2 separate regions of the Homo sapiens genome follow, and region 1 is linked to region 2. The links come from fine-mapping of genetic effects on gene expression. A gene starts in region 2. The other region holds a variant in brackets. All regions are shown on one strand. Distances are between the middles of the regions. Region 1 overlaps NAV2 (neuron navigator 2). Region 2 holds the start of NAV2 (neuron navigator 2).

Region 1 (2,902 bases), 350 kb after region 2:
CCGCGCATGGCTATAGCTGTATGCTATTTACTTTAAAAACAGTAATTTGGGAATTTCTACAGGGAAAAAAAAAGTCTCTTTGTTAATTGTGAATTGGAAATTCTTTAGCCCTTAATCCCATGGAAACAAATGTTTTAATAATTTAGGTTTTGATAATGCCTGGTTTCTATATAGCAGAATACACTGTGTATAGCTCCTGGAAAATAAGAGGACACCCCAGAATCAAGTTAAAGATACCAGGGCCTAACTTAGGCCTGTATTGAGCAAACAAACTTCAGTGATTGCTGATATGGTCTGTTTTGAAGGACCTAGAAACCCTTGCTTCTACCCACCTCACCCCTCCAACTCTAAAATTCCTCTTTCCTCAGCTAGTCATCTTGTTTGAAATTTCATCACTAAGTCCTAGCTTTCCTTTTAAAGGCTTTATATAGAGTAACCTTGGAGAGAGGTTTTTTAAGCCATCATCTGCTAAGAAAGCATAGAGATGGTCTTTCAGCTGTCAGCCAGTAGATAAACTATGTCCTTTCTTCTAGAATGAAACTGTGGGATATGGGTACCAAGGCTGGTACTTTCAAACCTAAATGCACTTCTTCAACAGTATTTACTAGCACCATGGATATACCAGGCTCTGGACTAACCCCTAGGATATAATTTAGGAGAGAAAGGAGCCTGCTACTGACGGAGGAAGCTGTAGGCACCAGAGGGACATGGGACTCTAGCTTCACAGGACTGGCACAGAGAAGCTGTAGTGGATGTTTCAGTGCCCAGCCCCGTGTTTTCCCTGTGGCATTCCCAAGGGTTCTTGCCAACACAGAGGGGAGTGGGTTTTCCAGAAGAGTAAAAAAATGGGAGACTGGCCAGCATTATGCAGACTTGGAGGGAAAGAGCTTAAGCTTCTCAACCTGTGTGTCTTCAGATCTAGGAAACTGTCACATGCAGTTCCTGGGGGCAGCCCCTTCATGCCAACCACTAGAAGTCCTTACAGTAAAAGACTCTCCTTCAGTAGCTGTTGTTCTGGGTATGGGGACGTGAAGATACTGTTTTCATGAAATTTGAAATTGTCTTTTCTGAGCTAATATAAATTCAATGAATTAGTAAAGACCTAATAATAATACTTTTGAATTCCATTTTTATCTGGATAACAAGAGACCCGAGGTGTAATCATAGCGTTCTTCTCACCATATGACTTTGGACAAGTCATCTGGTTATTCAGAGTGTCTCCCCAGTTTTGCCCTTGGCATCAGGAAACCAAGCAAGGTGATCTTCTGAGGCCCCTACAATCTCTGACATTCCATGAGTCATGGAGTCAAAGGCTCCCATTTACTGTCCTCAGTATGCCTTCTCTGAGAATATAGGTTGCTTTTGCAGACTTAAAAAAAAATAGCCTATCAGTGGAATGTTTTTATGCTGGTGCTGTCTACTAATTTCAAGAAAAACTACAAGTCTGGCTAGACTCTGCTACCGCCTAGCACTGAGGTGTGGTCCTTTATCTGTTATTACATTCTTCGTGATAATGAAATTCTGAAACACATGCTCCAGGCACCTTTGTAAATGT[T/G]AAGGTGAATAAAGTATTTGTTTGTTGTCTGAAAAGAGATCTTTGAAATGTTAAGTTGCCACAGACCCAGACCAAGGAGCCTGCTGAGAGTTTTAAAGGCTCTTATTGGATGACAGTAGATTCTTTCCTTGAAATGTCTATAATGAATATTCAAGAATGCTCATTCTGCATGAAATTTGCAATTTTAATTATCAGTGAAAGAAAAGATTACACAGTGCTAAATGATTGCCATGGAAAAGTTATGGCTACCTCTTGGAGTAGAGAAAATCTCAAAGGCCACTTCTGGCATTAGACTTGCTTTCTTGTTTGGTAGGGAACACTGGAGTTCCCAGGAGAGCTGCTGGATGGATGGAGGCTAGCAGCTTCACATAGTGTTACCAGATGTGCAGAACAGCGGCAAGGGGGGCAAGATACAAAGCACATGCTTTCTCTAGGCTGCTGTTGATAATTGGGGCCCAACCCCAGAGACAGGTGGGCACAGTGACAGACAGTGGCAGAGGCATGGGGAAGGGCTGTTAGGGCCTGTCGATAGAAGTGTTTCAAAGTAGCCTTGTCCTATGTGGATGGCTAAGCCTGCTAACAGGCCTCCGCCAGCCTTCTAAATGTTAGATAGTGGTTACATTCTCACCATTAACTTGTACCCTTTGGATTGAACTTGGGGCTTATTTCTGGAAAGCCCCCGTGAGAATGTAACTATAGTAAAAGTGCAGGAGAATATGCCTAGGCTCTGGAGCCAGACTACTTTAGATCCAGTCCCAACTCTGCCACTTACCAGCTGTGACCCTGGACAAATGACTGAACCTTCCTGTGCCTCAGTTTCCTCATACACAAAACAGAAAGCAATAGTATTAGTACCTCCTCAAAGAGTTGTTAAAAGGATTAGATGAATAATGAATGTAAAGTGCTTGGAACAGTCTCTGGCACATGGTAAGCATTCAATAAATGCTAGCTGTTATTACCAGAATGCAGGCAACACAAGGTCAGGGACTTGGTCATGTTCACGGCTCTATCTTAGGTTCTTAAAAATAGTGCCTGGCACACAGTAGGAAATCAGTAAGTATTTGATAGGTGGTGGTAGTGAGGATAGATGGACAGACAAAGACAAATGAATATTATCTGGGAGGGAAGATTGAGCTCTGAAGACATCTTCCAACCTTCTCCTGAAAGCATTTCTTAGATAAGGAGGTTGTTCAGTGTGACTTTATACAAGACATTTAACGTCTCTGAACCTCAGAAGGAATACAAACAAACCTACCTAATGGAGTTTCTGCAAGGATTAAATGACTTGGCTCCGTGTATTTAAAAATTGGTTGCTGCTAGTAGGAGCCAACCTAGAGGAGGGGACTT
Region 2 (2,902 bases):
ACAAATAGTTTATAAACAGAGATGACTTTGGGGGAAAGCAGCAGTAATTTAACAACAGGGAAAATAAAGCCCAGCTTTTATTGGTCTCTTACATTGCCAGGTACTTGTGCTAAATGACTGCCATGCACCAACCATCTCATTTAATCCAAACAACAGCTCATTAGGTAAATGTCGTCAAGCCTCCACCTTACTACATGTGAAAACAGAAGCTTTATAAGCATGCATGTAAGCTTAAATAACTTGCCCACTTCTAATCCAAGCAGTTCTACAGGGTGGGAGGCTCCTCATTCATAAATCGCGAAGGCTGGCCTGCCTGATCATCTCTCAGTTTCCTTCTTATTCTCATCCACTTTCAGTCAGCGAGGAAACCACAGAGCAACCCAAACAGCGAATTCGAGTCGAGGAACCTGTTGGGGCCAGTGCGTCCCAGGCGCGGACAGGGAGGGGCTCCATGAAACGCAGCAAGGTTTGGCCAGAGCCTGCCGGGGTCATGGAGCCTCTCCCGGCTTCTTCAGGCCACTCTAATTACAGAGTCTGTGGTAGGTTGCGTGGAGGAGCTGTCTCGGGGCGGGAAGCTTCCCTGCGTATTGTATTTGCCTATAAATACTTCAAATAGTTAAGTGAAATGTGCAGCCTTTGAAAACTGGAGAGGAAGCCGTTGGGAGGCCCCCCGCCCAGCCGGCCTGGAAGAGCAGGCAGAGAAATGGCTGGCGCGCTCTTAAAGCGGGAGACGAGCTTCGGCCCTGCCCAAGCCAGATGGGGGCAGCGAGGCTGCGGGCGTGACTCCGGAAGACTCAAACCGTTAAGGTGACCGGAGCAATTTGAAAAAGGAAACAAACTTCCCTCGAGCCGTGCCCGCGTGGCTCTGGGGCGGACGGTTGCGTTCGAAAGGGCATTTTTCAAAAGAAGGGTTTCAGGAACGCAGGGGTGTGGGCCCCCCGGGAGGCGCGCGGCCGGGGCAGTGCCGCAAAGCGGCCACCAGCCCGCTTTGTACTCGCGGCCAAGCGCGGCCCCAGAGTTTCGGCGGCGGCCAGAGTTTAGGCCACACCCTCTTTGCAGTGAGACCCGCGGCCGCTGATTGGCGCACCGTGGACCAATGGGCGCGCCGGGGCGGCCCCGGCTGTCAGCGCGCGCCGCAGCAGCGCCGGCAGCAGCCTGTCCTCCCCTGCGCTGAGCCCCGCAGCCAGCGCAGCCTTCCCGGGAAGCGCGGCGGCCGCTCCCGAGCGCAGCCCTGCCCGGCCCGCCAGCCGCGCGTCCCGGCGCCCGCGCCCCACGGCCACAGCCTTGCCTCTATCTAGCTCACGGAGCATGTGCAGACCCGCAGGCGCTAAGGTGCTCTCAGTCCGGGGGCCTTCTGGGCAGCGGTGACTGTCACCCCAAGAGAGACCTTTCGGGGGCTCTTGCCGCACCTCTGCTGCGTCGCGGGTGACACTGCGGTGCTCGCGAGCAGGGTGGCAGCTGCCTCTCGGTGGAGACGTCTTGGGACCCTTGCGCCCTTCTTCTCTCCTTCCTTCGCTGCTGTCTCCTTTCCTTCCTTGGCTGCTCGCTCTTTCTCTCGCCGGCTCAGACCCGTAGCCTCCGGAACGGGACTCGTGGGTCGCCGCCGCCTCTGTCTCTTCCAAAGGGGCCTCCTCACTTCGGAGATGCAGTGACAAGTTAATATGGGCGTCCAAGCCTCTGTTTCCCAGGAGGAAATTTGCAAGAGGCGGCAGCCCCTGAGCGCCCAGAGCTCTTGAAAGGCCACCCAGGAGAGGTGTGAGACCCGGCGGCAGCATCCGTCCAGGTGGGACCCGCTGAGCGCCGTGGCCAGTCCCCCATTCCCATCCCGGCACCCCAAAGGCGCGCTCGCCCGATTGCTTCGAGTTCCCCGACCTGGGGATTTTTTTTTTAGCCGCTGGTGGTGGGCGCCTCGTGGGCTAAGGCCCGGCGCCTGCTCTGCTACCCGCGCTGCCTTTAGCGGTCGCCCCCGCCGCCGCTGCCAGGGACGTGCTGGGAAAGCCCAAGCCCCGGGAGAAGATGCCGGCCATCCTGGTCGCCTCCAAAATGAAGTCGGGACTGCCCAAACCCGTGCACAGCGCCGCGCCCATCCTGCACGTGCCCCCGGCCCGGGCGGGCCCCCAGCCCTGCTACCTGAAGTTGGGAAGCAAGGTGGAGGTGAGCAAGACCACCTATCCTAGCCAGATCCCCCTGAAATCGCAGGTGCTGCAGGGGCTGCAGGAGCCAGCGGGGGAGGGGCTCCCGCTGCGGAAGAGCGGCTCGGTGGAAAACGGGTTCGATACCCAGGTGAGAGATGCCGTTTGCCGGGGTACTGTTCTGGAAGGATGGATGAATAGTTCTTTCGGGATGGTGTGGGAGAAAGGGCTGGATGGGAGAAGGGTCTACCATGTGGCCAGGGAAGGGAACCATTCCCCTTAGGCCGGCAGGTTGGGGGATGCGCGAGGAGAGTGGGCCGGCCGGTGGGTGTGGCCCGGGTGCCGGAGGTTTGCCTTAAGAGCTCTTCGAGACCTGGGATGGCGGGCACGTCTGCAGCATCTTCCTGGGGAGGAGGAAAGGTCGGGATGTTCTCAAAAAACGTGTGCATCGCTGGAAATGTGAGGTCCTGCATGTTGAGGTCTTGGCCCCAAGAAGCCAGTATCCGCAGCAGCAGCTGTGTGTCTGTCTGGCGGTTCCGCAGAGATTCTGTTCCGGACAAGGAATGATCTAAGGCCCCATTGGGTTCGACGCCCCCTAGCCTGGCTGTAAGATCCAGGAAGAAAAGGGGATCGCGGGTGGCAGTGAACCTGCTCTTCCCTTGGCTTGAAGATGACCTGTCCCTGCCCCATCCTGCGGGGTGACGGGATTCCGGGCAAGGTGCTGGGACTGCGGTACTAGTGCACCAGCTGAGGCCGGCAGCTGGAGACTC

What was found. PIP is the estimated chance that this variant, and not a neighbour inherited with it, causes the effect.
Region 1: its variant is fine-mapped to the expression of NAV2 in lung (TOPMed, PIP above 0.99).

The regions. Positions count from the first base shown.
Region 1 is chr11:20,063,663-20,066,564 of GRCh38, forward strand. All of the region lies in intron 20 of NAV2 (neuron navigator 2), which reads left to right. Among named protein-coding and RNA genes, the nearest start is that of NAV2-AS2, 16 kb to the left of the region's middle. RefSeq lists an enhancer at 1,033-1,835. The variant T/G (reference allele first, on the strand shown) is at 1,556.
Region 2 is chr11:19,711,680-19,714,581 of GRCh38, forward strand. It overlaps NAV2 (neuron navigator 2), which reads left to right and starts at 1,158. Exons shown (of 38, transcript NM_145117.5): 1 at 1,158-2,283. The coding sequence starts at 2,017. LEISA1 (lncRNA enhancing IL-6/STAT3 signaling activation 1) reads right to left here. Exons shown (of 1, transcript NR_015384.2): 1 at 1-2,902. RefSeq lists silencers at 863-1,392, 1,033-1,226.